2 linked regions of the Homo sapiens genome follow. The protein of the gene in region 2 interacts with the protein of the main gene of each other region in a pairwise test. Each region holds a gene or a part of one and is shown on either strand. Other genes may lie near its edges.

Region 1 (3,655 bases), on a different chromosome or scaffold from region 2:
CCATGTGTTGTGGGAGGAACCTGGTGGGAGGCAGTTAAATCATGGGGGTGGGTCTTTCCCATGGTGTTCTTGTGATAGTGAGTGGGTCTCATGAGATCTGATGGTTTTATAAATGGGAATTTCCCTGCGCAAGCTCTCTTGTCTGCTGCCATGTTAGACGTGCCTTTCACCTTCCACAGTGATTGTGAGGCCTCCCCAGCTACATGGAACTGTAAGTCCATTAAACCTCTTTGTTTTGTAAACTGCCCAATCTTGGGTATGTCTTTATCAGCAGCATGAAAACAGACTAGTACACTCTCTCTCACATTTTCCTTGGCTCTCCTCTTATAAGGACACTTGTCTTGGGATTTAGGATCCACCCTAAATCCAGGGTGATCTCATCTTGAGATCCTTTACTTTAATTACATCTGCAAAGATCTATTTCCAAATAAGCTCACATTCTGAGGTTCTAGGTGGACATAAATTTCGGGGGATAAATATTCAGACCACTATAGTGACATATACACAACTTACAATAAAAATATAAATGTACCATCGAGTCAGTTGTCTGAGAGGTAGCAGACGACCTCTTTAAAGGCTCACACTAGCTGTGAAATCAGGCTCCTCGCTGTGTGGCCTGCTGTCAGAGTGAACTTCAGCAAATACCACAGGAGCCCCTGACAGCATCTTCTCTGACACAGGGAAAGATAAAAAGCAGGAATATAAAAACCTGTCACCCATCTATTTCCATATTCCTTCTATCTGAATATTTCTTTCTCCCCTGCCCCCATCTCTTTCCATATGTCAGTTTAGCAGGCACCTAAGGAAGGCAACAGTGCCACTCTCAATATAATATTTATGAGATGGTTAAAGAATAATAACTGTGGTATCTATTTTAATTTCCATTTTAATCTTTTGTCCTACTTTTGAAAAAAAAAGGTCTAAAAAAGTACTGTAATTCAAGCACAAATATAAGCATACATACTTAATACTTTTTTTTAAGACTTAGGGTCTCACTTGGTCCCCCAGGCTACAGTACAGTGGTGTAATCAGGACTCACTGCAGCCTCAAATTCCTGGGCTCAATCGATCCTCCTGCCTCAGCCTCCTGAGTTGCTAGGACTACAGGCATGCACCACCATGCTTGGCTGTTTTTTTTTAATTTTTTGTAGAGATGGGGGTCTCACTGTCTCTGCAGGATTATGCCCAGGCTTGTCTGGAACTCCTGGCCTCAAAAGGGATCCTCCTGCCTCGGCCTCCAAAAGCACTGAGATTACAAGTGTGAGCAAACACACTCAGCTGCATAATTAATACTCTGGAAGGAGCTTTCTTGTTATTACTGTTGTTCTTGGTTGGAGGGGTGTGGGAAGGGGAGCCGTGTTGGGGGAGTTTAGTGTTACACATGCTGAGTGCAAAGCACACCTGGGGAGGACGGGAGGCCTCAATGAGGATGTGGGGAGCATGTCCAGGGCTGACCTTGAGATGAAAAACCAAATTTAGAATTTTCTCTTCCTAAATATTTTGAGCCTCATATTTGTAGCCCTTCATAAAAAGCTTCTTCATAGCCCTCATATTAATGACACAACCAAACATGAGAGTTAAGAATTAAGGAGTTAGTAGTTAATATTTAAGGAATAGCCTGGGGGTCCTGCAGACCTGGGTTTGAATAAGACCTTGGGCAGGTTGCTTAACCACACCTAGCCTCAGTTTCCCCAGCTGTAAAATGGACAAATGTCTCTAGTTCATGTTATTGTGAGGATTACATGAGACACTCAGCAGTGTGCTTTGCTGTGGAATAACCCCTGACCATGTTAGTTATCAGAGTCTCACTAGGTCCTAGGAGGAGGCAGGAGATACCTGTATTCCCATATGATAGCCTCAAAGAAGTCAAAAGCACACACAGCCAGTGCTGCAGGGCTGGAGACATAAATGGAAATCAAACAACTGCAAATCCCTGTTAATTCTCAGTGTAATTAAATTCCTGGTAGAATAATAAGGTGTTTCATTGTTCTCCCAAACTATAATCCAACCAGCAAATTATGTTTGAGTTTTTTAAACCATCTGAACCATAAGAGAATTCATACCAATTCTGAGTATAAAATTTCTATTATGTTGGGGAGGTAACTGTCCCCAAGTCACAGGCAGAGCCAATGAAGCCCAACAGGCACTGATGTTTAGAATCCGCAACAAAAAGGCTAAGACTCAGTAGAATGTAATCTAAATCATGAACAGGCCAAATCTGCCCCTCAGCCTGTGCTTGAAAATAAAGTTTTATTGGAACACAGCCATGCTCATTCATTTGTGTATAGCTGTGACAAAGATGGCATGGCCCATAAAGCCTAAACCATTTACTATGTTGCACTTTACAGAAAATGTTTGCCAACCTCTGCTGTAACAGAAGACATATAATGGGGCAGCATTGAGGAGAACCTGAAAATATCTTAAAATGCCAAATTGCATTCCTAGCGTTCTTGTTACTTTCAGTCTCATGAAATAGGGGTGCTTTATTTTCCATGATGTAGCATGGAAGGTAAATCCCCCAAGTGACATGAGCAAGAGGATCTTTTTTTTTTTGAGATGGAGTCTCGCTCTGTCGCCCAGGCTGGAGTGCTGGAGTGCAGTGTCGCAATCTCGGCTCACTGCAAGCTCCACCTCCCAGGTTCACGCCGTTCTCCTGCCTCAGCCTCCCGAGTAGCTGGGACTGCAGGCGCCCGCCACCACGCCCAGCTAATTTTTTTTTTTGTATTTTTAGTAGACACGGGGTTTCACCGTGTTAGCCAGGATGGTCTCGATCTCCTGACCTCGTGATCCGCCCGCCTTGGCCTCCCAAAGTGCTGGGATTACAGGCATGAGCCACCGTGCCTGCCCTGGAGGATCTTAAAGTTAGGAGGCATTTCTCCCAAGAAAGCCACTGGAGGATCCTGACACTCAGCCACAGTAGTCTCTGTGGCCTCAATAGCTTTTTCTCCCCCATGATGAAATTCCGCACGTCTACAGACAGTAAGGACTCACTCGGATTTTCTCTTCTTCCAGGGTTGGTGCTGGCCTCGATCCTTGCTCCAGTTCCTCCTTTTCTGCCACTTTCTTCCAGATGTCTTTAGTCTGCTGGTTATCCGGAGCCTGCAGATCATGGTACTGTGATTTTGTTTTCAAGCTATTGGTGAATTCTTCAGAGTGAGTTTTTCTGAAGAGAGGCAAAAGTGAAATTCTCAAAAAACATTCTTCAACAGGAAGAGCCTTTCCAAAGCATATGTCGACATTCAAATTATGTGAAAAACAGTAACTGACACCACTTACTGAGTGCTTCTAACATGCTGGGCCCTTTGCTAGGTGTGTAAAGACGTTAACTTCATCCTCATCACAACCCTGTGAGGAAGGCATTGTCATCCTCACTTTGTTATAAGAGCTCCAAGAAATTTTGTAATTCATCCAAGACCACATAGTGGTACAGCCAAGATCTGAACCCTGGTCTGCTCAACTCCTGGTTTAGAAGTTAACCTATTAGAACCACACCGTCTGCTTCCAATCGATGATTAAATAATTCCTTTATCTTCATATGTCCATGGATAGTTTTAAAGTTACAGGCACTAGTGGGCAGCATCCCAGCCCTTGAAAGTCCAATGCACCATCCACTGTGCCACAGAGTCTGCTTTGCATCCCTAGCCCTTGGGAACTGA
Region 2 (3,655 bases):
GTGACGCTTGTGAATGTCCCTCCTAGCTCAGTCTGAAGCAATCTTTCCATTCAAATGTTCAAACCCTCTCCCTCCTTTCAGGCAAAAAAAAAAAAAAAAAAAAGCCAGCATTCCAGGCAGCTGCCAGCTCTACCCCTAGTTACACTCTCAATCTCACACAGCCCGGCCACAAGATTTATCAGGAAGCCAGTTAGCAGCTTAAGCCTGGAAATAATGTCACCCAAACCCCCAGCACACCAAGGGAACTTCTGAGAGCAGCTCTCGCTAGCGGCATTCTTTCACCCTCCTTAGTCCCCCAGTTCTAGCTGCGCACGGATGCCAGGAGGCTCTTGAGGGAGTGGGTGTCACACAGGCAGAAAGGAGGGAACCAGGGAGATGGGACCATGACGGACGGCTTTTTACTGCTTTCTTCCAGATGATTCAACTTTCCCCAGCTCAGGCCCTCAACCAGTCTATGGCCAGTTCATGACAAGAAGTAAAAACTCACAAACTGCCCACTCAAGCCCAAACCAATTTTGAACAAGTTCCCAAAAGGTTTTGCAGGGAGATGAACTAGCCTGGAACCCACTAAGGTTCTTACCATTATCACCAACGAGAGATCAGAAACTCAGAACCAACAACACAGCCTCGCCTGTTAGAAAGTAAGTTTATCTTTTCCAGCACTCTCTCCCGCATCCTCCCGGCCTCTGTTGATCAATTTAGAAAGGACACCGTAAGAACCCTTGGAAGTCTAGAGCCTGGTTTAAAGCAGGGTTTCTTAAGCTCAACTCTACTGACGTAGGGCTGGAGAATTCTTCCTTTGCAGCGGGGGGAAGCTGTCCTATGCATTGTAGGATGCTTGGCAACCATCCCTGGCCCCTATCCCCTCGATGCCATGAGCATTCTCTCCCAAAGTTGCGATAACAACTGTCTCCGACATTGCCAAGCCAAGGAAGGGGTCTGCGCCATCCCCGGCTGACAGCGCTGATGGGCGCGTGCCCCTCCTTCAGGAGCCCCGATGCCTGTGGCTCTCAACTATTAAATCAAGTTCCAGCAAAGAACTGGAAACCTTTAAGCTGTGTATGGAACCATTGTGTGTAGCACTGGAAACTGTCCCTTTTCTAAGTCACTGTAAATGGTGTTTTTTTTTGGAGACAGGGTCTGGCTCTGTCTCCCAGGCTGGAGTGCAGTGCTACAATCAGGGCTCCCTGCAGCCCTGACCTCCTCAGGTGCAAGCGATAAAGGTTCCTCGTGATCAGCTGGAAGGTACTTTTGAATTAAAGGTTCACACTGAAGAACCTAAGTGGATAGTGGCATTTGAGGCCAGCAGTGAAAGTGTTTCCTCTCAAAGAGTTCCCTACACAGCAGCAGACATGGTTATTCTGAGAGTCATGTATGTTCTGTGTTTCTCTGTGAACCATGTTTCAGTCTTTGTTTCTGTCATCATATGTACGGGAAATTCCATAGAGACTACATCACACAAAACTGACATTGTCAATTACCAGGAAATACAGGTGCTCACCTTTTGAAGGCTTATTCATACATATGGTTGCCACAATACGTATATATGATAAACAGTGTATGTATACATACAAGTTGTTTAGGCCAGGCACGGTGGCTCACACCTGTAATCCCAGCACTTTGGGAGGCTGAGGCGGGCAGATCATGAGGTCAGGAGTTCAACACCAGCCTGACCAACATGGTGAAACCCTGTCTCTACTAAAAATACAAAAAAAATTAGCCGGGTGTGGTGGCGCACCTGTAATCCCAGCTACTCAGGAGGCTGAGGCAAGAGAATCGCTTGAACCCGGGAGGCGGAGGTTGGTCTCAGTAAGCCAAGATTGCGCCACTGCACTCCAGCCTGGGTGACAGAGCAAGACTCTGTCTCAAAATATATATATATATATACAGTTGTCACAATATGTATATGATAAACGGTGTACATATACACATAAAATGTTTATGGTGGATCTAGCTCCCCCCTAAAAAAGAAGCCCAGATACTGAAAGACACTCGAATTTTCCTAAAGACTTGAGGGTGGGCTCGACCTTAGGGTCTGGATGCTGAGTTTTATGTAAATATCTACCTGTGGGGCGGGGTGCCATGGCTCATGCCTGTAATCTCAGCACTTTGGGAGACTGAGGCAGGTAGATCACCCGAGGTCAAGAGTTCGAGACCAGCCTGGCCAACATGGTGAAACCCCGTCTCTACTAAAAATACAAAAAAATTAGCGGGGCATGGTGGTGGGTGCCTGTAATCGCAGCTACTCGGGAGGCTGAGGCAGGAGAATTGCTTGAACAGAGGAGGCGGAGGTTGCAGTGAGCCGAGATCGTGCCATTGTACTCCAGCCTGGGCAACAAGAGAGAAGCTCCGTCTCAAAAACAAACAAACAAACAAAAACAAACTACACATGTGGCTATCTGTGTTTAGCAAACTAGGAAAATCTTTGTTTTATTTTATATTTTACTTTTTTTTTTTTTGAGACGAAGTCTCGCTCTCATCCACCAGGCTGGAGTGCTTCCCAAACTGCTGGGATTAAAGGCGTGAGCCACCACACCTGGCCAAACTAGGAAAATCGTAAGAATGGCTCAGTGGGGATTTTTTTGTTCCTTTGTTTTGGTATAATTATCCTCATTTTTTTTCCAAATCTTCAAGCAGGGTTTCTCAAATTTTGGTACTATTGACATTTGGGGCCAGGTAATTCTTGGGGGCAGTGGGGAGATGCTGCCCTGGGCACCGGAGGATGTCCAGCAATATCGTCTACCTACTAGTAGCCAGCAGCACCGCACCAAGCTGTGACAACCAAAAAGGTCCCAGACATTGTCAATGTCCCCTGGAGGACAGAACTGGCCCTGTTTTACAGGAAGATAAATGTCCCCTAATCCTTTTGTGTAAAAGGGGGAATGTTTTTTACCCTTAGACCGGATAAGCAAGACCAGCTGAGACCTACTGGTATAAAGCATACTGCCTGCTCACATGGTGAGAACTCAATAAATGTTTGTATCACTACGTAATGAGAGATCCCGAGAGATGTCACTTTCCAACAGGCACAGCAGAGGGTGAAAGAGTTGTTATTAGACTAAAAACAAAAAAAGAGACACAAATAGTCGGATACGTCCAGATAACAGCTGAGATGTCAGAGGGAACCATGGCAATGATCACAGAAGAGCATGGAACGCAGCCAGGGTGACTTCTAAGAGCACGACTCAGGACAGAATTGACCAGGAGGCCAAGACGACAGCCCCGAGGGTGGGCTGTGGCCATTGTGCTTTGGGACTAGGCCTCGGGATGTGGAAATAGGCAATCCTAAGCCCAGCTAACACCACACTGTCCTTTCCAGGCTTCAAGGCGCCATTCACAGATCTGAACGCAGGTCATCCTGCTTCCCTTGAGAGAGACAAAGTCCTGGTGGCCGGCACAAGAGGCCTGGTTCATTCCTCTAAAGAGGGTGTCAGCTCAGGACAATATGGGCACAGGCCCTGATCGCTGGGAGTGGGGGTGGTGGCTTCCAGAGACCTGTCTATAGCAGGGAACAAAGTGGCCCAGGAATTCCTCCAAGACCTCTGAGGACATCTTTCCTGCTAGGGAGCAGTACTCTATGGTGCTCTAACCAAGCAGGTGAAGGTCTGACGCCTGCTGGGCAAGGTCTAACCCAGGGCCAGGCCATCTGATTTCA

What was found.
Region 1: the proteins of SH3GL1 (region 2) and SH2D4A interact in binary tests that used the Homo sapiens proteins (3 or more experiments, as listed by UniProt).

Annotation. Positions count from the first base shown.
Region 1 is NC_000008.11:19,334,193-19,337,847, reverse strand, and holds part of SH2D4A (SH2 domain-containing protein 4A), read right to left. Parts: intron 3,163-3,655; coding exon 2,991-3,162; intron 1-2,990. UniProt on the Homo sapiens protein: Inhibits estrogen-induced cell proliferation by competing with PLCG for binding to ESR1, blocking the effect of estrogen on PLCG and repressing estrogen-induced proliferation. May play a role in T-cell development and function.
Region 2 is NC_000019.10:4,394,044-4,397,698, forward strand, and holds part of SH3GL1 (endophilin-A2), read right to left. Parts: intron 1-3,655. UniProt on the Homo sapiens protein: Implicated in endocytosis. May recruit other proteins to membranes with high curvature.